5 separate regions of the Homo sapiens genome follow, and regions 2, 3, 4 and 5 are each linked to region 1. Evidence: fine-mapped expression QTL. A gene starts in region 1. Each other region holds a variant in brackets. All regions are shown on one strand. Distances are from middle to middle.

Region 1 (5,000 bases):
AGTAGAATGAAGAATATGTGATTACTTAAAATAATGATTTGCCTTCTGCAGACTACGTCTAAGAACAATAGGACATTTTTATAAATAACTTTCAGATAGCACTTTTCATTTAGTGAATGTGCTTTTCTATTTGGTATCTAATTTGTAATTCTCTAACAAAATTTGAAATTATAGGCTGTGAAATTTGATTTAAACATATTTAAGATCAAGACAGAAAATCCCTGAGTTTTTTTTTTTTTTTTGAGATGGAGTCTTGCTCTGTTGCCCAGGCTGGAGTGTAGTGGCTCAGACGACTTTCCTGCCTCAGCCTCCAGAGTAGCTGGGACTATAGGCAGGCACCACCATGCCCATCTAATTTTTATATTTTTAGTAGGGACAGGGTTTCACCACGTTGCCCAGGCTGGTCTCAAACTCCTGACCTCAAGTGATCCACCCACCTTGGCCTCCCAAAGTACTGGGATTACAGGCATGAGCCACCACACTGGGACTTGTGAGATCTGGGACTTCTGAGATCTTTTTAAGATAAATCTATATTGATTCATAATAGCAACCTGGTACAGTATGTGGTTGGTATTGTTCTATGTACCTTATATGTATTAACTAATTTAGTCCTCGTAAGAATCCCACAAGGTGTTTACTAGTTTTATTTTATTTTCATTTTATAGATGAGGAAATTGAGGCAGAGGTTAAATTACGTGACCCAAGATCACATGGTTAGTAAGTGGCAGAGCCAGGATTTGGACCTAGGCAATTTGGCAGTCAAAACTGTGCTTTCAATTATTACATGACACTGCCTCTTGCTACTAATCTATTAACTTTAATAGATTAGTGTATTTATAGACTCAAATTTTTCTGACTTGTAAGTTCAATTTATCACAATGAGCTGCTGGGAGATTAATTACAGTGATTTAATGCAAATGTTAAGAATCCAGGAAAGTCAAACTCATGGTCACACAGAAAGTACAGGAAAAAAGTTTGTCAGCCATTAGACCCTAAGGATGCCTGTTCTTTTCAAGATTTTTTTTTTCTTTCTGAAATGCCCACTAAGTCTGCCATAGGGTCAGAAAGCAATTTTCTTACATGTTTTATAGTTTCTGCATCTAGCCTGGTGCCTGGTACCCAGTGGGCACTCAATAAACATTTAACTCAGGGCAGATCCAATGACCTCAGAAGAATGCTCTTCAATAGACCTTTTGCCTACATTGATTAGTTCTTTTCGGTACTTTTTAAGATTACAAGAGTAAAACCCTAATAAATTCTCATTGTTAAGGATTCAAAACACATAAGTAGACACATCAAAACTTGAAAATCCTGTTACTCACCAACACATGCTTTTCCCCAGGTAACCACCGTCCTCTGATTTGTCTTCCTATGAATTTACATACACGTAGGCACATACGCGTTTGTATAACTTAAAAACATAAATGTAATCACAAATACACATTACTCTGCAACTGTCTTGTGTCGGTTGTTCATGCCATTATAAATATATTTCATCTATTTTAGCAGCTCTTCAGTGATTCGTAGTATGGATGTATTGAGCTTTATGTAATTCACTTGTAATGAACATTTAGATAGTTTCCTATTAAAAACCACGTTGCTATAAATATTCTTGTGCAAATACGTGTATGCATGTAGAATTTTACACCGATCCCGATTCTCCAAAAATCCAAATTGCAGGTGGGATCATTTTAGAATGTACTTCAATAGCGTTCTTCATCCTGCCTCGCGTTTTTAAAAGGACTGAGTGGAGAGCGGGGAAGAGGTCGTAAGATCCCCTGTTAGGGTGTTCATAAAGTAACTTCTCCTCTCGCACAGAACGTCTTGACTAAAAAACAATCCGTACAGAATGTGCGGGAGAGCTGTAGGAACTCCTACGGTGGCGACAGAGAGGGAAACAGGCTTGTTGGAAGAAGCGCCTGGTCAGCGTTATCCTCGAGGATCATGCCTTCCTGTTAATTCCCCACCCCATCAATTCTACCTTTTTAGGTTAGACTGGGGAGTAACTTTCCCAGGTATTAAAAATCGTCTAGAGAGAGCAGGGCGAAATTAGAGTGCCGAAGTGGCTTGAGAAGCACAGTGAATGGTGGCGAAGCCCGAGCCGGGTCGCAAGACGCCCGCTGGCACTGCCGGCGCCATGGCGGCCGCCTTCGGCCACGGCGGAGGACTCGCTTTCCCAGGGGCCCCCGCGGTCGCAGGGGCAACGAGCCCGGCCGGCCCTCGCGAGCGGAGGCGGGGCCGGGGCCGGAAGTCACGTGCTGTGACAGTAGCTGGGGTGAGGCCGTCGTCGCCGCACGGGCTGGTTGGGGCTGTGTCTGTGGGAGGCGCCGGGGTGATGGCGGTGGAGACTCTGTCCCCGGACTGGGAGTTTGACCGCGTTGACGACGGCTCGCAGAGTAAGGGAGCTGCAGGGCGAGGGCTGCGGGTGGACGCTCCTTCGGCCCGCCGCTGTTCTGGGCTGGGCAGCGCTCCTGCGAGAGGGACGGCTGCGCAGCCGTCTGGTGCGGGACACTTCAGAGCCCTTGGGGTGTGCGAGGGACGCGCTCTCCAGCGTTACTTTCGGGGTTGGGGTCCCAGCCACGGCGGGTCAGGCTGCCCGTTCAGGGCTCGGCGTGTGAGGCGGAGACTCTCCTGGGGAGCCTGCGGTGCCCCGCGGGGAGCGGCGTCCCCCTTCAGCTGCCCCGGGGCTTGGGCGGGGCGCGCCCGGGAGGCCCAGCGGCCCCGGGATCCCAGGCTGCTTCTGTCTCTGGCCTCTTGGGGATTTCGCCAGATTCTGAGCGTTCAGCTCTGGAGGACGCTGATGTCTGGGTTCCTGTTTCGGTTTCCTGTTTTTCTTCTTTTCCTCCCAAATCAACTTTTGCAAGTTTGGGTGTCTTTCCCATCGCGTTGCTATAACCGTAGAAGGGAGCGAAAAAAGAACTTTTCACCCTGCGAAAATAAACACGTGAATGTCATTTTATCATTTTCCAGGCCTTTTATTTATGCTAAGTGATATTTTTCAGTGATGTTCTGCAGTTTCCATCGCAGTTATAAAGGCTTCAAAAATTACAGCAAATCTTCAAATTTTGCTTCACAAGATCGAATTGTCTGATTTTAACTTAGAAGTCTATCCCGAAATAAACAAATTGTGTTTCTTTCAGTAAAATATTGAGGCCAAATTAATTGTAGTGAAACTCTACTTGAAATAAATACAAGTTGGCAATCTGCTTCTTATCTTTGGTCATAGTAATCTGTGTAAGTGATCTAAGAGAGATTGGAGCATGCTGTTTGTGATTTTTTTTTTCCCTCATAGTTTTCCCAAAAGGTGGAACGTTGCTTTTAAAAATTCCGGATGAATTTTGCTTGATTTACGAAGAGAGACTAATGCCTACAATGTTAGATGAATTAGGTTTTACAAGTCTCTCAGAGAAGAGTGAGCTACATCCAGGATGGGTTGCAGTTTTTCACAAAACATTCCTGAGGTCAGGAGTTCAAGACCAGCCTGGCTAACATGGTGAAACCCCGTCTCTACTAAAAAATAAATAGCTGGGCTTGGTGGCGAGCGCCTGTAATTCCAGCTACTTGGGAGGCTGAGGCAGGAGAATCGCTTGAACCCGGCAGGCGGAGGTTGCAGTGAGCCGAGATCGCGCCATTGCACTCTAGCCTGGGTGATAATAAGGTATTAGCTCTTATGCAGCATAAAAATTAACCTTGGAGATAATGACAAAATCTTTTAATTTTTTTTTGTGGAGGGGATTCTGTATTGTTATAAAGTGAACTGTACCTTGTCATATATGTTTTATGGACAAAGATGACGAACTGGTATCTTCAAAAAAAATTGGAATAGAGTTATGTTAATTGAGTTTGAAAATGGTTCAGCCTGGAGTAGAATGGTCTGATTCACTCAACAGATATTTTCTACAACCAGTGGCTGTGCTAGATATTAGGGATAAAAAGATAAAACAAGGAGTGCAGTCTGTTGACAAAGATGAGCATGTTAAGTAGGTTTTTGGAATTTTTACTCTTAAAAAATTACCATGTAGTTCTTATCTCAACTTTTGTTATTTTAACTTTCACCAATTTTACAACCGTTTATTGTCAGCAAGGAACTTTTAATGTTATTTTAGGTTTTCTGTTTCCTGTTTGTGAATCCCTGAACATACTAAAGGAGTGATTTATTGGCGTGGTGTTTCTCTAGCATTGTCTTTTTTTTTTTTTTTTTTTTTCGAGACAAGGTCTCACTCTGTCGCCCAGTGCCGTGGCATCGCCACGGCTCACTGCAGCCTCGACCAGCTGAGCTCAGGTGATCTTCCTACCTCAGCCTCCTTAGTAGCTGGCTGATTTTTTCTTTTTAAATTGGGATAGAGACAAGGTTTTGCCATGTTGAACTCCTGGTCTCAAGCGACCCACCGGCCTTGGCCTCCTAAAGTGTTGGGGTGAGCCACCATGCCCGGCCTAGCATTGTCTTTAAGAAGTCATTTGCTGGTCAAATGCAGCTTTGACTGGTCATTTCCTGTGTAGTTGAGAATAAGACAACTATTTGGGGTTCTGAGAATCTGGGCAGTCTTATATGTAAGCTGTAGGGAAGAGAACACCTCCCTGTGCTTGGCGTTCATTAATTTTTGGTCTGTGAATCATATCTAGACTAATTGTTTTCCAAAATTGCCTAGATTAATGCTATAATAAGACAGAAACCTTAATGAACTAAATGGATTCACCGGATTTAAAACTTTATGTGGTTGAAGAATAAAGGAGAGTGGGGGCTAGGTCTTTATACTTTAATACAGCATGAGTCAGAACACACTTTCTCTTACTTGCTTCACATTGCTAATTTGAGGAGAGCAAATTTTTACCTTTTTTAGAAGACAAAGGTTGAATAAAGTTATTCATATCAATAAAAGAAACTGAGTTGGAGTTGAATTTGTTACCTTTGGGAACAAGTAATGAATTTTTATGTGTAACGTGAAATACTTTGACGAATAGGCATATTTTAAAATCCAGCTTATTCCAATGATTCCTTA
Region 2 (5,134 bases), 47 kb after region 1:
TATGATAAAAGTGTTGGGAAATCAGGTACAGATCCCTACAGTCTATCTCATATATTAACTATTTCACACTAATAAGCAGCTCATGTGAAAGCCTGAGCTCAGCTTTACTCCACTCATGTAATTTTTTTACCCCCAAAATTTGTAAGTATGATTAGACTGTTGCTGCAGAAATAATTGATAGACTATAGGCTAATCACGTAAATAAAACCTCTTCAATTATAATTAAAGTTATTTAATAACTAAATCTCAAAGGTCATATTAATAATTGTAAACTGGTAAGTACTTACTGAATACCTGCTCTGTTCAAGGCACTGTTTTGGGCTTCTAAAAGGCTCCCACAAGTTCCAGTCTAAATGTGAAGGTATAAAATATTTACATGAAAAGTTATTAAGTTCTATGTTACACCATTTTACTTGTGCATATAATGTATTGTCCTTCTGCCCTTACGAGTGGAACTTGTCTTCTGATATGTAGTACTTTTATATTTAAAAGTAAGAACTACATTTCATAATCATCGCTTAACAAAACTTTATACTTATTTGAGCTTTTCACATACATTATATGTTCACAATAACCCTGTGAGATAGGCATGTAATCGTTTTAAAGATGAAAAAAGAGAAACTTAGAGAAAGAAGTAAGTCATGTTTCTGGGACTTAAACCAGGGTTATTTAGCTATAAGTCCAAATGGGTTTTATATTCTTGAAAGTTTATATTAACACCAAACAGTAAAATCTTATTGACTATATTTTGGGAAAATTCTGCCTTGTGAGATTGATTTATTCATTTATCAAGCATTTACTAAGCATCTGTTATGCCACATTTTCTGTTAGGTGCTGGGAATACCAACCCCTTTGCTTTCAGGAGACTTTAGGTTTACTAGTGGGTAATACGTTATAAGCATTTCATTCTGGAGTAAAGTTTTTTCAGTTAATTGATTTGCATATTAGACATTTCTATTATGTTTTAGTACAAGAACTTGGAGGATTTTACCTTTGTAAATGTTTTATTATAAACCATTCAATATTAAGTATTGTCAAATAAGTACAAATAAGTTTTCTTCAAGTGGACATTTAATATTAAGCGGCAAACTTATGGAGCAATAGTTCTTAACCTTTTTTGAGAATCTGAGGAAAACTCCAGGATGATTGTTCCAGAACTAATGCCTATATGACATACGTACACAATTTTGTGTATGATATGCTAGAGTCCATGTGCTTAAAGCTTGGGTCTATGGACCTCAGATTAAGAGCTGTCCTTCTAGAGCAGTGTTACTTAAGTTTTATTTATACACATACCCAGAATTTTTGCATCCTGTTAATACTGCCTTCACTATTGTTACATGTTTTTATTTTTTTTGAGAGTATAATTTTTCCTTAGAAATAACAGTTGTTAAATCATAGTCCTTAAAATGCTAGTCATTTTTGCCCTAAATACATAATCACTAAGTGTTCTTTGGTGTGCCATCTAATGTCACCTTGCTTACCACCAGGTTGCAGTCCACAATTGGGGAATATTATCCTTTTCATTTTAATCCATCGTTTTACTCTTTATTCTCTTCTTAGAAAATATAAATTCTTTTTTTTTTTTTTTGAGACAGAGTCTTGCTCTGTCACCCAGGCTGGAGTGCAGTGGCATGTTCTCAGCTCACTGCAACCTGTGCCTCCTAGGTTCAAGCGATTCTCCCGCCTCAGCCTCCTTAGTATATGGGACTTCAGGTGCATGCCACCACGTCCAGCCAAGTTTTGTATTTTTAGTAGAGATAGGGTTTCACCATGTTGGCCAGGGTGGTCTCGATCTCCTGACCTCGTGATCCATCCGCCTCTGTGTCCCAAAGTGCTGGGATTACAGGCGTGAGCCACTGCGCCCGGCCAATACAAATTCTTTACCTCTGCTTATAAAACACTGTAATGTGCTTTTGAGTCTGATAAATATCTTGAGAAAAGGTGTAAAGAATCTGGGAGCAAAATGGAAGCCTTTTTGACTAATAACTTGCCTGCTGAAATAATAATAATTAACATTTATTGAGCATTTACTGTGCCATGGCTATTCTTAGTGCTTTATATGTTTTAACTCACGTGAATCTTACCACAACATTTATGAAATATTTCTTCCCTTCATTCACTGCACAGGTATTCATTCAGTACAACAAATGTTTCTAGGTGCTGATGATATTTATGACAGTAAACAAAGTCTCTGTCCTTATTGAGCTTAATTTACCAGATGAGAAGACTGAGATACAGAGAGGTAACATAACATAATTTGTAGGTCTCTTAGCTAACATGTGGGAGACCAGATTTGAACCCAGGTGGCCTGGCTTCAGAGCTTTTACTCTTAATTGCCGCTCTATACTAGGCTCTCCTATTTTGCTTCCTCAGACTTTGGTCTGATGATTTGGAGGAAAACAAACTTGTCATTTGACTTTTTAAAGATGCACATTAAAAAAATTTCAATGTCATTTCTCATATTGGGACAGGCCTTAAAATAGATTCAATGTTAACTGCTATGTAGGGTTGTTAAAAACATAAGATAATGTATGTAAAATGTATGTTACTCATGATTATGAAATGTTAACTTGTTTTTACATTTCCGTCT[G/GTTCT]TTCTTTCAAGTAATTTCAATAAAGTTCAATTATAAATTGAATTCCTACTATTTGCCAGGACATGTTGGCTCTAGGGATGGAGCAGTGAAGAAGACAAAGGCTGTACTCATGGATCTTGAACTCTAGGTGGGGGAAGATGCAGACAGAAAAATACATAGTATGTCAGTGATAAGTACTGGGTAAGGAGATGTAAGGGGGCTGGGCAGTGCTAGTCAGTGATGTTCAGGGAAAACAGGAGGTGACATTTGAGCAGGGACCTAAATAAGGTTGGGGAGTAAGCCACGTGCATCTGGGGAAAGAGTCTACCAGACAGAGGCAACAGTAAGTGCAAAAGCCCTGATTCGTTCACATTTTTGAGAAATAGGGGCTGGAATGGAGTGAGCAAAGATCTAAGTGGCAGGGCATGCTATCTGAACAGTAGCAGAGGGGTGCAAGATCGATGTCAGGATTTTGATTACTGAGGGTGGAAAGCCATTACAGCATTTTCAGAAAAAGCATGATATGGGGCCGGGCATGTGTGGCTCACACACTGTAATCCCAGCACTTTGGGAGGCCGAGGTGGGTGGATCACCTCAGGTCAGGAGTTCAAGACCAGCCTGGCCAACATGGTGAAACCCCATCTCTACTAAAAATACAAAAATTAGCCGGGCGTGGTGGCGGACGCCATGTGATCACAGCTACTTGGGAGGCTGAGGCAGGAGAATCGCTTGAACTGCAGAGGCGGAGGTTGCAGTGAGCTGAGATCATACCACTGTACTCCATCCTGGGTGACAGAGTGAGACTCTGTCTCAAAAAAAAGAAAAAGCACTATACGCTCTAACTTAGTTTTTAAAAATTCACTAGCAGCTCTGTAGATATTATACAACACTGGGGAATGTGGCAGGATGCTAAAGGTGAAAGTAGGGAAATCAGGAGGCCATTGCATATTGCAGTGCTCCAGCCAAGAGCTGGTGATGGATTGGATAGGAGGATATCTATGAAGGGGTGAATGAAAAGTGGGTGGATTCTGGCTACGTTTTCAAGGCAAAGTCAATATAATTTGCCCAGTCATTTTGATTATAAAATGTGAGAGAAAGGAGCCAGGGATGACTTTAAGACATTTGGCTTGAGCAACTGAAAGGATAGAATTGCCAGTTTCTTTGATAGGCAAAATTGGGGATAAAGATCCTGAGCTTGAGTTGGACATATGAAATATAAAATTCTTATTAGACATAAAAGTGTAGGCATCGGATAAAAAAACCTAGAGTTCAGAGGAAGAGTCCAGGCCAGAGATATAAATTTGGGAGGCATCAAATAAAGATTTCTTGATATCACTTCCAATTGTGTATGTGGCGGAGATTGAATCTCAATGTGAGAGGAGAAATTATTGATATTATAATTTTAAGCTTGACCATTTTAATGTAGTCAGCATTTAATGATTTTAGTTTATCAAATGAAAATAACATTTACTTTTAAATATTTAATATAGTTATATATAAGTATGTATGTTTATATTTTAAGTGTAGAAATATGTAACAGTTTTACTTTTTATGATAAGAACTGAAGTAAAATATAGCAAAATATTTTGGTTCTTAGGAGTGGAAACCTTGTAATTTACTACTGTATGTAACTATATTCCTATTAGAATTTAGAGTTATTTATATAAATATCTGATTTTTTTGTGTGGTTTTTAAGGTAATGCTATGGGCTATGTACGAATGATAAGATCTGGTGGTCTTCATTGTAGCAGCAATGCCATTAGGTATGGATGCAAACATCATTTTTGCCTTGTTTATGCCATTTTAAAAATTGTGTCCATTAAATATATGTTACAAGTGATATTGTAGATAAGGTGTTTGTTCTTGATATATTTTGAGATAAAATATGGAAGAAAACTATTAATTCTACTAGATTTTTCTCAAATTTTAAGACTGCAGCAGACTTCTGAAAATATTTCTCTTAAGTTAATTTATCAATATGGTTTATGAATGCATGTAAAGATTACATGATTTTAAGGATTAAAATATTCATATCTAAAATTCAATTTGGAACTAAAGTGGTGATATGAATAATATTACTGAAATGCACAGTTGTTTCCAAATACATAGTTGAAAATTTTAGAGTCCTGCAGTACCACTTTTATATCTGTGTCAATTGCACATATTTTACTTGACCTAATAAATGCCTTCCCAAATTCTTATGTAGATTTGTTCCTGATCTTGAAGATATTGTAAATTTTGAAGAACTAGTAAAAGAAGAAGGTCTTGCAGAAGAAACATTAAAAGCAGCAAGGTAATCTAAATTTGGAAATATAAAAAAGTGTGTTTATAAAAAACATTCTGAAGAGAAGACCAGAGGGTAATATGTAATTTTTATGCCACTGTTTTTATTATACAAAATTATGGCCTCAGTTTATGAAGTATAATTTTTAAGACTTCAGTATTCTAAGACCTTTCCAGCTTCTAGAACATGCTGTCCAGTATTTCAGCCACTAGCCACACATGGCTCTTGAGCACCTAAAATTTGGCTGGTCCACACTGAGATGTGCTCAAGTATAAAGT
Region 3 (5,134 bases), 72 kb after region 1:
GGTAAGTTCAAACTGGGGGGTGGAAAAAAAGGCAACAGATCATACAACTACTAGAATTAAAAACTGACAAGGCTACTCTCTGGAAAAGTCATGAGAAAAAGTATCCTATTAGTCCTATTAGTGGCAGATCTTTATTAATAAAGTGCCTAGGCTGTGTTTAAGGTAGATACAAAGGTGAATTAAGGAGTAATCACTAACATGAACCTGTATGCGGTACTTACATTGGCCCTTGATACTTGAGTCTGTGGATCTATCAACCTGAAATTTTAAAAGATACATTATGTCACAAATGTTGGATAAATTTAATATTCCTAGAAGAGTTTGTAGAAGTCCAGAATAAATACAAATTCCCCGAAATAGAGATAAAGCCTGTTAGAGGGTGAGGCGAGATAGCTGTGTGTGACCACGTGTCCTGCTTTCTGCCTTTAAGGAACCTGTGTAGCTAAAGCTCAGGGTACCTATAATGGAAGATTATATAGCAAGTAGAAGATTTAACTTCACAGGATTCTGCAACTTACCCAAACAGACAGCATTATAATCCTCAACAGATCTGCTATATAATATGGATGGATTATATTCTGTACAGCCTCCCTCTCAACAAACATCCATTGGCAACTTTAATGTCCCTGAAGTGCAAGATCAACTTAGTCTAAATTTAACATTATTGAAAAAGATGAGGTAGCGGTGACAAAATAGTGAAGGGATTTTGACAAAACTCTTATCAATTTGGGTAAAAGAGGAATAATGTTTAAGAAAGTATTCCAAAATATATTTCCTTGTTTTAATTATTTACTATTTATTTATTCTGAGAAGAGTCTTGCTGTCACACAGGCTGGAGTGCAGCAGCCCAGTCTTGGCTCACTGCAACCTCCACCTCCCGGGTTCAAGCGATTCTCCTGCCTCAGCCTCCTGAGTAGCTGGGATTACAGGTGTCAGCCAAAATGCCTGGCTAATTTTTGTATTTTTAGTAGAAGTGGGGTTTCACCATGTTGACCAGGCTGGTGTCGAACTCCTGACCTCAGGGGATCTGCCTGCTTCAGTCTCCCAAAGTGCTGGGATTACAGGCATGAACCACCGCGCCAGGCCTTCAGAATATATTTCTTCAACAGTATTTTAAGCATCATCTAATAATCAGGTTGACATATCCTAGAAAATAAACTATATGAGAGAATTTATTGCTATCTTAGATAAGTGGTTATAAATTTCTACTGTATTGTACTCGTGTTGGAATAATTAACATGCTATTATGTAAATTATTACTATACATTTTATAGGTGAAAGCAAAAATATAGTTTGTGGAAAAAATGGTTATGATTCCATTTATATGTTAAATGTCCAGATCTATAGAGATGGCAATTTTAGTGGTTAGTGGCTTCCTAGGGCTGGGTGGGTTGCCAGGGGCTAATGGGTATTCTTTCTGAGGTGATGAAAATGTTGTAAAATTGATTGTGATGATGGTTGTACAACTCTGAATATACTAGAAACCACTGAATTGTACATTTAAATTGTATGTGAATTATATCTCAGTAAAACTGTTACACCCCCATGCCCCCAACAAAAGGCTACAGTTGGAAATACGTGCAGTTACACTTATTAAACCGTAAGACTTATAATCAGAGAACTCGAGATTGAGTTCTACCCTGGCTACTCACCTGATCTTGTGCAAGTCACCCGGACTTCTTACAACTGGTTCATCTGTAAAACTGTGGTAAGAACCCCCACTTCCAAGAGGTGGTTATGACAGTTAATGAGAAGTGTGTATGGGAATTTAAGTAGACAAAGCTTAAGAAAAGTTACTTTTACGTCCCTATTAATGGGCATGAATTTAATTTTTTGAATATAGATCATAAACAGTTTTCCTCAAGTTGGAATAACTTTCATAGGTATTTTGTAAAATTCCCTTATAAGTGAAAACTTAACACATGCATATTTTGTGGGTCACTTTCAGAAGTTTGCTGTTTAAAT[C/G]AGGTAACCTAGATTTCTCTTTTTTTATTATTATACTTTAAGTTCTGAGATACATGTGCAGAACGTGCAGGTTTGTTACATAGGTATACATGTTGCTGTGGTGGTTTGCTGCGCCCATCAACCCGTTATCTACATTAGGTATTTCTCCTAATGCTATCCCTCCCCTTGACACCCACCCACCAACAGGCCCCAGTGTGTGATGTTCCCCTTCCTGTGCCTATATGTTCTCATTGTTCAGCTCCCACTTATGAGTGAGAACATGCGGTGTTTGGTTTTCTGTTCCTGTGTTAGTTTGCTGAGAATGATGGTTTCCAGCTTCATCCATGTCCCTGCAAAGGACATGAAGTCATTCTTTTTTATGGCTGCATAGTATTCCTTGGTGTATATGTGCCACATTTTCTTTATCCAGTCTATCATTGATGGGCATTTGGGTTGGTTCCAAGTCTTAGCTATTGTGAATAGTGGTGCAATACACATAGTGTGCATGTGTTTTTATAGAAAATGATTATAGTCCTTTGGGTATGTACCCAGTAATGGGATTGCTGGGTCAAATGGTTATTTCTGGTTCTAGATCCTTGAGGAATCGCCACACTGTCTTCCACAATAGTTGAACTAATTTACATTCCCAGCAGTATAAAAGCGTTCCTATTTCTCCACATCCTCTCCAGCATCTGTTGTTTCCTGACTTTTTAATGATCGCCATTCTAACTGGTGTGAGATGGTATCTCATTGTGGTTTTGATTTGCATTTCTCTAACGACCAGTGATGATGAGCTTTTTTTCACGTTTGTCAGCCGCATGTCTTCTTTTGAAAAATGTCTGTTCATATCCTTCACCCACTTTTTGACGGGGTTGTTTTATTCTTGTAAATGTGTTTAAGTTCTTTGTAGATTCTGGATATTAGCCCTCTGTCAGATGGATAGATTGAAAAAATTTTCTCCCATTCTGTAGGTTGCCTGTTCACTCTGATGATAGTTTCTTTTGCTGTGCAGAAGCTCTTTAGTTTAATTAGACCCCATTTGTCAATTTTGGCTTTTGTTGCCATTGCTTCTGGTGTTTTCATCATGAACTCTTTGCCCATGCCTCTGTCCTGAATGGTATTGCCTAGGTTTTCTTCTAGGGTTTTTATGGTTTTAGGTCTTACATTTAAATCTTTAATCCATCTTGACTTAATTTTTGTATAAGGTGTTAAGAGGAAGGGGTCCAGTTTCAGTTTTCTGCATATGGCTAGCCAGTTTTCCCAACATCATTTATTAAATAGGGAGTCCTTTCCTCATTTCTTGTTTTTGTCAGGTTTGTCAAAGATCAGATGGTTGTAGATGTTTGGTGTTATTTCTGAGGCCTCTGTTCTGTTCCATTGGTCTATATATCTGTTTTGGTACCAGTACCATGCTGTTTTGGTTACTGTAGCCTTGTAGTATAGTTTGAAGTCAGGTAGCATGATACCTCCAGCTTTGTTCCTTTTGCTTAGGATTATCTGGGCTATGCGGGCTCTTTTTTGGTTCCATATGAAATTTAAAGTAGTTTTTTCTAACTCTGTTAAGAAAGTCAGTGGTAGCTTGATGGGAATAGCACTATTACTTTGGGCAGTATGGCCATTTTCACGATATTGATTCTTCCTATCCATGAGCATGGCATGTTTTTCCATTTGTTTGTGTCCTCTCTTATTTCCTTGAGCAGTGGTTTGTAGTTCTCCTTGAAGAGGTCCTTCACATCCCTTGTAAGTTGTATTCCTAGGTATTTTATTCTCTTAGTAGCAATTGTGAATGGGAGTTCACTCATGATTTGGCTGTTTGTGTATTATTGGTGTATAGGAATGCTTGTGATTTTTGCACATTAATTTTGTATCCTGAGACTTTGCTGACGTTGCTTATCAGCTTAAGGAGTTTTTGGGCTGAGACGATGGAGTTTTCTAAACATACAATCATGTCATCTTTAAACAGAGATAATCTGACTTCCTCTCTTCCTATTTGAATACCCTCATTGCTTTCTCTTGCCTGACTGCCCTGGCCAGAACTTCCAATATTATGTTGAATAGGAGTGGTGAGAGAGGGCATCCTTGTCTTGTGCTAATTTTCAAAGGGAATGCTTCCAGTTTTTGCCCATTCAGTATGATACTGGCTGTGAGTTTGTCATAAATAGCTCATTATTTTGAGATATGTTCCATCAATACCTAGTTTATTGAGTGTTTTTAGCATGAAGGGGTGTTGAATTTTATCGAAGGCCTTTTCTGCATCTATTGAGATAATCATGTGGTTTTTGTCATTGGTTCTGTTTACGTGATGGATTACATTTACTGATTTGCGTATGTCGAACCAGCCTTGCATCCCAGGGATGAAGCCAACTTGATCATGGTGGATAAGCTTTTTAATGTGCTGCTGGATTCAGTTTGCTGGTATTTTATTGAGGATTTTTGCATTGATGTTCATCAGGGGTATTGCCCTGAAATTGTGTTTTTTTATTGTGTCTCTGCCAGGTTTTGGTATCAGGATGATGCTGGCTTCATAAAATGAGTTAGGGAGGAGTCCCTCTTTTTCTATTGTTTGGAATAGTTTTAGAAGGAATGGTACCAGCTCCTCTTTGTAACTCTGGTAGAATGTGGCTGTGAATCCATCTGGTCCTGGGCTTTTTTTTGGTTGGTAGGCTATTAATTATTGCCTCAATTTCAGAACTTGTTATCGGTCTATTCAGGGATTCAACTTCTTCCTGGTTTAATCTTGGGAGGGTGTATGTGTCCAGGAATTTATCCATTTCTTCTAGATTTTCTAGTTTATTTGCATACAGGTGTTTATAGTATTCTCTGTTGGTAGTTTGTATTTCTCTGGGATCAGTGGTGATAATCCCCTTTATCATTTTTTATTGTGTCTGTTTGATTCTTCTCTCTTTTCTTCTTTATTAGTCTGGCTAGCAGTCTATCAATTTTGTTAATCTTTTCAAAAAACCAGCTCCTGGATTCATTGATTTTTGAAGGGTTTTTCGTGTCTCTATCTCCTTCAGTTCTGCTCTCATCTTAGTTATTTCTTGTCTTCTGCTAGCTTTTGAATTTGTTTACTCTTGCTTCTCCAGTTTTTTTGAGATGGAGTTTTGCTCTTGTTGCCCAGGCTGGAGTGCAATGGCATGATCTCGGCTCACTGCAACCTCCACCTCCCTGGGTTCAAGTGATTCTCCTG
Region 4 (5,134 bases), 110 kb after region 1:
TGGATAATTCCACTTAAGAAAGTCCTGAACACAGCAGCATCACAGGCCACATAAATACCAAGTTACCTGTTTTTCATATGCCAGCAGTTGCTTAGAAAGCTGTTGTGTGGCCAGGCACATCTCATTCTGTGGAGAGAAGAGAAAAAGCAAGTAAGATTAGTCCAATGTATACATAGTCACTGAAAAATGCCATCTCTGAGAATCCCTTAAAAAGTAATATTGGCTGGGTCCAGTGGTGCACACCTATAATCCTAGTACTTTGGGAGATTGAGGCAGGAAGATCACTTGAGACCAGGAGTTTGAGACCAGACTAGGCAACACAGCAAAACTCCATCTCTGCAAAATAAAAACATTTTTAATTATCCAGGCAGGATGGCATGCACCTGTAGTCCCAGCTATTCAGGAGGCTAAGATGGGAGGACCCCTTAAGCCCAGGAGGTTGAGGCTGCAGTAAGCCATCATTGTGCCACTGCATTCTAGCCTGGGTGACAGAGTGAGACCTTGTCTCTAAAAAAAAATTATAAAAGAAAAAAAAATCCCTTTCCACCATATGGAGCTAAAAGAAAAAAGAAGAAGAAAGCATATGTGTGTGCCTGTCAAATAATAAAATGTTTTGTTCAGACATTTGGAAAACAATACCAAAACAAATCAAAAGGTTAAAGCTTGCTATTTTATTTTTTAACCCTTTACAAATGACTGCTCCTTCTGGTCAGTCAGTCCATAAAGAAATGTAGTGAGCAATTATAATGTGCCAGACATTCAACAAGGGCACAGTCCCTGTCCTCATGGGGCTTTTCAGGGAAGCACGCATCAAAAAAATAGTTACAAGTGTGATGAGAACTGCAAAAGAAAAATACTGGCTGTGTTGGGAGGCTCTGACAGACAGTCTCCAGGGAACAGATGTTCTGAAGACAAACTAGGAGTCAGCCATGGGGACGAGCTTTCCAGGAGGCGCCAACACGTGGAAGAAATGCACTGCCTGTCTGAACAGCTCTGAAGTGGAGCGTGGCTGGGGCAAGAGCTGTGCGCTTGGAGGTGATATCAGGCTGGGAATGAGGCAGTGGGAAGGTGTGCAGGCCCCCGGGGCCCAGGCTCACACATACTGGAAGCACAGTGGGGACTGAAGCAGCATATGACAAGGTCAGATTCCACCAGGCTTAGAACACTCGCTGGCAATGATGGATGGTAACAGAAGCACAGCTAAACCCAAGTATCCCAGAAAACCAGAGGAAACACTGCTCTTCAAGAGCTGCGATGCCCTGGGAGGCCTGTTTTGTGCCATTTTCACCAGCCCGTACTGCTCATTTTCCTCTCCTCTTGTTTATTCCTCTAATCTCTGGCTACACAGCGGTTTTCTACCACTATCCTCCTACCACTGATGTGGGCAGCCTAGAAAACTTGCCTTACATTTCTAAAGCTCAGTTAAAGCTTAAGATTCAGGGTTTATTCCTAAGGAGCAGAGCCACTGGGTCTGACATGGCACAGATGATGGGAGGACACTGGCCTACCTCCTTGGCCTTGGCCTCCACTGGCTATTTCTCCTGGGGTTGTTGTTCCTTTAAGGCTAAGTCCTGAGCTCTGCAGGAGCTTATTTTATTTTTCCCAGTCCTATTTGGCAGAATACAGTAGAGCCAAGTCCTACCTTTTTTTGACCCTCTTCGCAGACAACTGGCCAACCTGTTCCCTGACTTCCTGCTCTGCCCTAAGGAATAGGCATTAATAGACCAGGAAACGTGGCTCTTTTTCCTCAGAAGAAAGTCAGACAAATACAACAAAAGTGCCTGGCTCTGACATCCTACTGGTATTCAACCCCTTTCAAAACTAACCAGAAATGTGACTTCTAGCCACATAGTCAGGAAGTCAGCAAGTGGACAAAGCCACAAGCACAATGTCCTTCATTCAGATAGGAACGTCCAACAATTCTTAGCACACAGCAAGCCCTCAACAAATGTTTGATGAATGAATGAATGAACAAGATTAGAAGATTCATCTAAATTCCAAGTTTAAAACAATACCTGAAATCATGGTGTAAGGGTTTTAAAATCCTTCCTAACTGTACAAGGAAACATCACAAATGAAATAAAATACAAAGCAATTGGCCAGAGACTACTACCTGTCAACCATCTTTAGCAGTGTTGTTTTGAAGATCAGAGTGCATGGAAACAAAGGTCTTATCTCACTCACTGGGCTGATACTCAGCTATGACTGAAAATCTCGTGCTCCTTCTTTCTGAGTTAGCAGCAGATGGATTCATTCAAGCTATCTTGGCATGTTCCTGAGGGCAGCACCATGTGGAACATGATTTGCAGACCCACAGAATCATTGTAACAGCAGCTAACATTTACAGAGGGCTTCATTCATGCCAGACCCTATGCTAAATGCATTCTGTGCACGACCTCATCTAATTCCAATGACCCTGTAAAAGCAGGTTCTAATTAATAACTCTATTTTATAGATGAAGAAACTGAAGCACTGAGAGATTAAGCCACCTGTGCAAGGATACACGGCTGATGAGTGGCAGGGCTGGGATGTGAACCTGGAGCTGTCCGATTCTAAAATCCACACTCCTAAATGCTACTGAGATCCCAAGTTCTACCACAAGGCAGGAGAGGAGAAGGCCTCTGCTTTACACTAGGGTGGGCAAACTTTTTCTGTAAGGAGCCAGAGAGTAAATATTTTAGGCTTGTGGGCCATATATGGTCTTTGCCACAACTATTCAACTCTGCTTTGTAGCACAAAAGAAGCCAGAAATAACATATAAACAAGTAAATGTGGCTTCATTCTGATATAACTTTATTTACAAAAATAAGATGCTGGCCCAAGAGCCATGGATTACTGATCCTGCTTTGTCATCAGATGTCTCAAAGACCCATTCTTTTGCCACACCCTCTGCAGGAGGCTCTCTTAAGCTACACCATTTCAGATCCCAGGAGCTTCTACTCTTCTAATTCATTCTTTTCTTTATTTTAGTCAACTCTAATATGTTACTTCCCCATATATGCCTCCTTCAGAGACTGGTCAACACATATAACCACCCTCCAGGCCTTCCAAACAAGCAGGGACCATGGGCCACTCAA[G/A]TTCTTCCTCAGAGCTTACTGGCAAATGCTCCGAATGTAATGGAAAGACCTGCCAGGGAACTGCCAGCATCAGGCTGTACCCAAAGCTCAAGGGGAGAGCACTCATGTGCCACTCACACAGCCACACAGCTCCACCTCCGCTCAGGGAAGAAGGGGCACAGCGTGCAACACACAACAGCTGCCTTCCAAAACGACTTCGAACAACCAGACTCTCTGGGTCTCTCCTAGGAATACCATTTGAAAATGCTGCGTGTTTTCCTATGTGTAATATTTCAGGGTGCAAGACCAACTATGATTCTGTGCAGCCAGTATGAGTTCATCGGAAACCAACATGCTTACAACACAGCCTGTCACCTGCCCTGAACAGAGCACATTGTGTGAAAAGTCTTTCAAAAGAGATCAACTTTAATCTTACTCATACTTAAGCTACTGTACACAAAGGTTGTAAGAAATGCTTTACCAACATCAGCTAATTAATCCACGCCCTGTGCCCTGTGAGGTAGGCCTGCAAAAATATCTCTACAACAGGACTTGCAAAACTGGAGCCCGAGTGAGGAGTAAATATTAGCAATAACATCAATAAAGATAGCTGCTAACCCTGAGTCTGCCCTAAGTGCTTGATGTTGCTGTTAAATGTTTTTCATATATTATCACATTTAATCCTCACAGTGCACCCATGAAGTAGATACTATTATTATTTCCATTTTGTAAACGTGGAGACTAAGCTTCAGAAAGGATAAATAACTTTCTAAAGCCACATGACTAGTGACTGGCAGGCAACAACTTAATGCAGGACTCGAAATCAAAAGCTCATGTTCTGACTATTATGCTATTCCAATCTAAAGTCCAAAATTGCACCTACTCAATACTCAGGTGGGCAGGACCTGTAGGGCCCATAGATATGAACCTAAGTCCCACACTTTTCTAGTGGTAGAAGAGCAAAAGACGTGGGCTAAAGTGGGAATTCTCAATGGAGTTCCATGAGCAGCATTGTTTTGGGCACTCTGGGCCGCTCTGGCTGCCATCTACACTATGCACCGCTTTGTGAGAAGCCCTGAAAGGACACCCTGAGGAGGGTTTGCTGACAGCATCTCCCATGCTCAACAGAACCTCCCGGGGCTGTTGCCAAGGCAGAAAATCAAGTGGCTAGCAAGCCTGAAAGGAAAACTGGGCATTTGGCAAAGGAATGTTTATCTTTCTGTAGCACAGAACGCTAACTAAATGCAACTGTCACCTGAAACCCCCAAGGGCCTCTGTGCGCAGCAGCATCCACGGTGAATATGAATGGAGAGGCTAGAGAGTGGGGTGGAGGAAATCCACATCGATCTATACCAACTATTTGGCTGGAGATGTTGCCTAGTCACATTCAGTACCCAGTGTTTATCACAAAGCTGGCGGTCACGGGTCGCACTAGTTCAGGAGCCCCTCGAGACAGGATGCACACAGGGAGTAGTGAGGGGTGTGGCAAGAACGCGGCTGGAGCGTCTCATGCGAGGCAGGCCACGGGGGGATGCCTGCTGGACCTGGACTTTATTCCAGCGGCAGTGGGGAAGCACCAAGGAACTCAGGCAGGAGTATGAGAAGCTCAGGCACGGGTGGAAGAAAACCAGGAGTGGTGGTGGTGGGAAGAAAACACTGAAGTGGGAGAGAGAATAGATGAGGGGGACTGATCAGGAGGCCACTTGGAGAAGCTGAGATAAACAAGTGTCTGAGCCTGAGGCAGACAGTGCAGAGCGGGGCATGGAGGTATTCCTGAGGCAGAAACAGCAGGGTGTGGTGAGTGAGGAAGGCGGGGGAGTCAGAAAGAACTGTGCTGCCCATGTGGAAGGCCAGATGGAGAACGGTGCCTTCAGCCAAGGAACTGAGGAGGGGATATGAATTTGGAAATGACAACAAAGTGTGCCGTTGAGATGTCCTTGCTTTTAGGTGGAGCTGTCCCAAATTCAGTCCTTCATTCAACACCTATGGGGCCAGACTGCTACCTACCAAACACTGAATGGGGCCAGACATGGTGTAGGGCACTGGCAACATCTAACTCTGAGCTCTGGGAGCTGAGA
Region 5 (5,134 bases), 81 kb after region 1:
TGTATCTGAAATTGTTTTGGATTTCAGCTTTTTTTTCAGATTTTAGAATACTTGCATTATATTTACCAGGATGAGCATCCCAAAATCCAAAATGCTCCAATGAGCATCTCTTTTGAGCATCAAGTTGGCACTCAAAAAGTTTCAGATTTTGGAGCATTTGAGATTTCCAGATTTGGAATGCTCAACTCTACCACATTTTGTTGATCCATTCATTTGATGTTGGGCATTTGTATTATTTCCACCATTTGGATATCACGAAAAGGACTGCTATGAACATTTGCGTATAAGTTTTTGTTTGAACACCTGTATTTAATTCTTTTGGGTAACTACCCAGGAGCCCGCCAAACTATTTTTTCACAGCAGCTGAACCATTTTATATTCCCACCAGCAATGGGTTCCAGTTTCTTCACATCCTTGCTAAACGCTTATTTTCCATTAAATATATATATCATATATATATCATATATATCATATATATGATATCGATATCATATATATCATATATATGATATATCATATATATATCATATATCATATCATATATCATATCATATATATATCATATATATCATATATATATAAACATCTGTGAGACAGTGTGCATGCGTGCGCACGCCATCTTAATATGGAGTGACATATCTCATTGTGGATTTGTTTTGCATTTCCCTAGTAACACATAGCATCTTTTCATGTCCTCATTGGCCATTTGTATATGATCTTTGGAAAAATGTCTATTTCAAGTCCTTGGTCCATTTTTTAATTGGGTTGTCTTTCTGTTGAGTTTTATAAGAGTTCTTTGTATATTTTGTGTACTACATCCATATTAGATAGAATTTGTGAATACTTTTTTCCCATTCTGTAGTTTTTCTTTTCACTTTGATGTGCTGTGGTTTTTCACAGTACTTTTACATATATTTTCCTTTGATCTTTTTGGTGGAAATTATTCCAGGACCAATAGGATTATAAGAACCATGAGCCCATTTCTGTAAAAGGTCCAGGACATAGTGAAAGAACAGGTTTTATTAATAAGAACTTAATTCTCAGATAAGGTTCATAATAAATGAAAAGGATGGGCTTAATGAATGGAAGAAGCTATATCCTAATTTTTGCTATAGTCCTAGTTACCTTTTTTGAAGCTAACGTTCATTGAGCACTTTTCATGTGCCAGTGAGTTGTAAATGTCTTACATATATTAGCACATTTATTCCTCATGACATTTATTCCTCATGACAACAGTGGAGGGTGTGAATAGTTACTTTCATTTTACAGCTGAAAAAACTGAGGTACAGAGGCTCAAAAATTTGCTTAAGGTCACATAACTAAGAAATGCCGAAGCCAGGAATAAACTGAGACATTCTGGCTCTAAAGCAGTGCTGTCCCTTAGAAATGTAATGGAAGCCTTATATGTCATCGAAGTTTTTCCAGCGGCCACATTAAGTGAAAAGTAACAGATAAAATTAATTTTACTTAATCCAGTATATCTAAAATATTACCAGACATGTGATTAACCTAAAAAATTAGTGAGATGTTTTACATCCTAAATCTTAGAAATTTGGTATGTATTTAACACTGAAAACACATCTCAGTTCAGGCTAGTTTTGCTGCAGATGCTACCTGTGGCTACAGTATCATACACCCATGTTCATAACCAGGATTTTGGTCATATCTGAAACCCAGATCGTATTACCTGAAACACTAAATCATGTAGTTAATATGGCCTGCTCTCTCTGTGATGGCCAAGTTATTTAGGCAGATTTTTAAGTTTTTTTCCATTATTTTTTATAAATAGTACTCTCAGAAATGAAAAAAAAAAAGCAAAACCAAAAAACTTCCATTTTCAAGCTCTGAGCTATAATATAGAGAATAAGTCTAGTGTGATGGCATCTTTGTGAACAACAGTATTCACTCACCACTGGATTTTTGAAGATACCAGTTCTTGTCTCTAAGGGAGCACTTTCTAGGCTATCTATCTTATGTAAAAAGTAGTGGGGGCAAAAGCAAGAGTAGTCTCTTCATTCCAGTACTAACATTTCAGATGGGTGCATTAGCCTTAAAAGGGGAATTAGCTGAAGCCATAAGAAAGTCTGAAAATAAAACTGAACGTACCTCAAAGATTGACTGGTGACCATCAGATGGGATTCTGTCATGCGGAAGATGTTATGAATAGCCCGAGCAGCCAATACTTGTCTCATCGCTTCATAAATCACTTCAGTAGTGCTGTCTGTTTTAACTGCCATTGATCCCAAAAACCGAACTATAAACATCTGCTGCAAAAGAGAATCTGGAAGACAGCATTTTCC[A/G]CTCAGGATCTCATTTACTTCCTGCTGCTGTTGATCTGCATACCAGGGTCAGATGTGCTAGTTTTGCCTGCTTTCTGTGGAGGACTTTCTACCAAAATTTCTCAATACCACTTTTATAAGCCCAATATTGCCAAAGCTCTGCGTCTTCCATTTGTCTACATCTTGTCAGTTTGTTTGGAACTACTTCATTAGACTAGAAAGGCTTTTCTTCATCTATAAAATGAAATGATGGTGGTACCAGATGAACATCCTTCTAATGCTGAAACTCTAGGTGACTACATTGTACCTTTTCTCTGAAAAGAGTGAGTTCACTAGACAATAGAAAATTCATTACTTTGGCCCACTGATAAAGTCCTCTTAGAAAAGAAATTTTATTTGCAGGATATAAGATCTCATGTTGGGTCTCATGCAATTCATACTTCATGTGTATTACGGAAAGGCAGTGATGATGTTTCATAGCCTAAAGGAAGTCAGTCCTGGCTGCTGACAGTGGCGCATAACTTGACAAAACTGACTCCCAGCAACCATAACTAGAAGACCAAAGAAGGTTTTTTCTTTTTTTTCTTTTTTGAGACAGGGTCTCACTCTGTAGCCCAGGCTGGAGTGCAATGGCATGATTTCAGCTCACTGCAACCTCCGCCTCCCAGGTTCAAGTGATTCTCATGTCTCAGCCTCCTGAGTAGCTAGGATTACAGGCACCTGTCACTACACCTGGCTAATTTTTGTATATATATATATATTTTTGTAGAGACAGGGTTCTCACTGTGTTGCCCATGCTGGTCTTGAACTCCTAAGCTCACGTGATTCACCTGCCTCGGCCTCCAAAAGTGCTGGGATTACAGGCGTGAGCCAGCGTGCCGGCCATCAGATACGTTCTTAAGTACATTATAAGAATGTAAAAAACCAAAAATTTGAATTTGAAAGACTTAAATATCATTTGTGTCATCTTCAAATTCAAGAACAAGTTATTTGTGCTTTTGGTTTTCTAAAATGACACAGCGTATTTCCAGTTCACCAAGACTGCATTTGAATGTGATAACAGATTCAGATTTCACAACATTTCTATGCTATGCTACAAAAACGCTATGGCTAATGGTGAAATAGCTGTAGGTGGTCTTTCAGCTACCCCTCAGTTTTTATCCAAGACTTGCCTCCACTGCAGATATCTTACTAAACTTTCAGAACAACAAATCTTAATTCATACTCCTAATCATAGCTCTCTAAAACATGATTTCACATCTTATTTCAATGGCCGTTGTCATTTTGTGCAGAGGAAAGAATAAGGACACCAAACTAGTCACTTACCTTCTGCTTCTGGAAATGATTCATCCTCAGTTTCACCAAAAGGGTTGGTACGCCTAGGGGAATAGCCAGAGTTGAACAAACACGACAGCTGCAGCTAGAAGGGCACTTAACACTTGAACTGGAAATCAGAATGGCAACAGTCTTTGGTGGTGGAGGGGGACACAAGATACCTCAAATTTACTTTCAGTTCTCCCAGAGATAACCTCTCTCAGCCCATACCTGCTCCCTCTGTTCTGATCAAGGAATTCTGTAGCAGGAAGCACAATATCGAATTGAATCGGCGTTCCAGGCGCGATCAGCTCCTCTGCTTCAGGTAGACTGGCTGTTGCTTTGGGAACAATCTTGTCATTTTCATTTTCCATCTCTGAATTTTTCAGGTTCTGGCTGAAGGGGAAAAAAATCAATTCCCTTAACCTTACGCTTTTATAATCAAGTGAATACTTGTTGAAGGCTGAGGTGACTTTTATGAATGAAAATACAAGGGGAAAGATTGACCTCAATCCCTTAATCCATTCTACAAATAAACCTTCTTCAAACTTCCTTCATATCCTTGGCTAAAAACCTTCAGTCTGCCCCATTTCCTGCAGTTCTCTCTGCTGCACAGCATCCTGCACTGTGTTACTAGTTTTCTGTCTGTATCCTTCTCTGTGAGGCAGGTTTTGGAGGGCCTATGCTATAGCTAAGTCATATGTATTCTTGGAACATAGTAGGCACTAAAAAATGTTAGCTGAATGAACCAAAGGTCCTGGCTTGGCATTTAATCACCATCTGGCTCTAATTTCCCCAAAAGCCTCCCTTTCCACTCCTTTAATGCACCCTCTACGAGAGCTGTACCACACATACCACATGCTTTTCCTTATTTCCATCTTTATCCCAATTCTGCTGCTCACCCAACTCTCCCAACCCAGCTCAAATTCTTCCTTATCCACTAGGCCAGCCGGCACCCCGCCTCCCTCCTCTGAACTCCTGTGATTCTTCTCAGTAAGTCACAGGCACAGTCTTGCGGCCCTGTGTGCCTCCTGAGCTTCGCATTGTGCCCACACTCATTGCTGACATTGTGGCCCATCAAATACTGTGCTCTCTGTGGACAGACTAATCAGGAACCAACATGTTCTTCTCCTCCAGTCTCAGAATACTGTAATTTAACTTTTCAACGTTTTAAAAATCTTTTCTCCTCAGCCAGACTATAAACTCCTTTGAAGGGCAAAGAATATCAATGTATTTTGATTTCTTTCATTGCCTGGACCTTAAAAAGCTCTCAGTGATCTTTCTGTTCATTTGATATGTCAATATTTTCCTATTTCTCAAACATGTCAATAACTGAATGTAGTGTATCAAACTACTTTACAACAGGCATTTGACAAATGATCATAATGACTGGAATGTGGATGAAACAGTACATAGGCTTGTAGATGGTCACTGCAAGGCAAGCCCTTGGAGACCACTTGGTCTGACCTCCATTGTTAACAGAAAAGGAAACTGAGGCCTCTGGAGAAATTGAGCAGTTTTGAAGGCACTCAGTTACCTGG

What was found. PIP is the estimated chance that this variant, and not a neighbour inherited with it, causes the effect.
Region 2: its variant is fine-mapped to the expression of WASHC4 in whole blood (INTERVAL, PIP above 0.99). The same link has a PIP of 0.9 or more in tibial nerve.
Region 3: its variant is fine-mapped to the expression of WASHC4 in skeletal muscle (GTEx, PIP above 0.99).
Region 4: its variant is fine-mapped to the expression of WASHC4 in amygdala (GTEx, PIP above 0.99).
Region 5: its variant is fine-mapped to the expression of WASHC4 in skeletal muscle (GTEx, PIP above 0.99).

The regions. Positions count from the first base shown.
Region 1 is chr12:105,105,466-105,110,465 of GRCh38, forward strand. WASHC4 (WASH complex subunit 4) reads left to right here and starts at 2,266. Exons shown (of 33, transcript NM_015275.3): 1 at 2,266-2,396. The coding sequence starts at 2,336. LOC414300 (a long non-coding RNA gene) reads right to left here and starts at 2,177. Exons shown (of 2, transcript NR_121211.1): 1 at 1,323-2,177. RefSeq lists silencers at 2,075-2,354, 2,565-2,814 and enhancers at 2,375-2,534, 4,373-4,532.
Region 2 is chr12:105,152,458-105,157,591 of GRCh38, forward strand. WASHC4 (WASH complex subunit 4) reads left to right here. Exons shown (of 33, transcript NM_015275.3): 27 at 4,269-4,335; 28 at 4,779-4,865. Among named protein-coding and RNA genes, the nearest start is that of WASHC4, 47 kb to the left of the region's middle. The variant G/GTTCT (reference allele first, on the strand shown) is at 2,594.
Region 3 is chr12:105,177,005-105,182,138 of GRCh38, forward strand. APPL2 (adaptor protein, phosphotyrosine interacting with PH domain and leucine zipper 2) reads right to left here. Exons shown (of 21, transcript NM_018171.5): 18 at 222-258; 19 at 1-12. Among named protein-coding and RNA genes, the nearest start is that of APPL2, 57 kb to the right of the region's middle. The variant C/G (reference allele first, on the strand shown) is at 1,966.
Region 4 is chr12:105,217,600-105,222,733 of GRCh38, forward strand. APPL2 (adaptor protein, phosphotyrosine interacting with PH domain and leucine zipper 2) reads right to left here. Exons shown (of 21, transcript NM_018171.5): 3 at 67-126. Among named protein-coding and RNA genes, the nearest start is that of APPL2, 16 kb to the right of the region's middle. The variant G/A (reference allele first, on the strand shown) is at 3,078.
Region 5 is chr12:105,186,167-105,191,300 of GRCh38, forward strand. It overlaps APPL2 (adaptor protein, phosphotyrosine interacting with PH domain and leucine zipper 2), which reads right to left. Exons shown (of 21, transcript NM_018171.5): 15 at 3,825-3,989; 16 at 3,606-3,658; 17 at 2,107-2,281. Among named protein-coding and RNA genes, the nearest start is that of APPL2, 47 kb to the right of the region's middle. The variant A/G (reference allele first, on the strand shown) is at 2,301.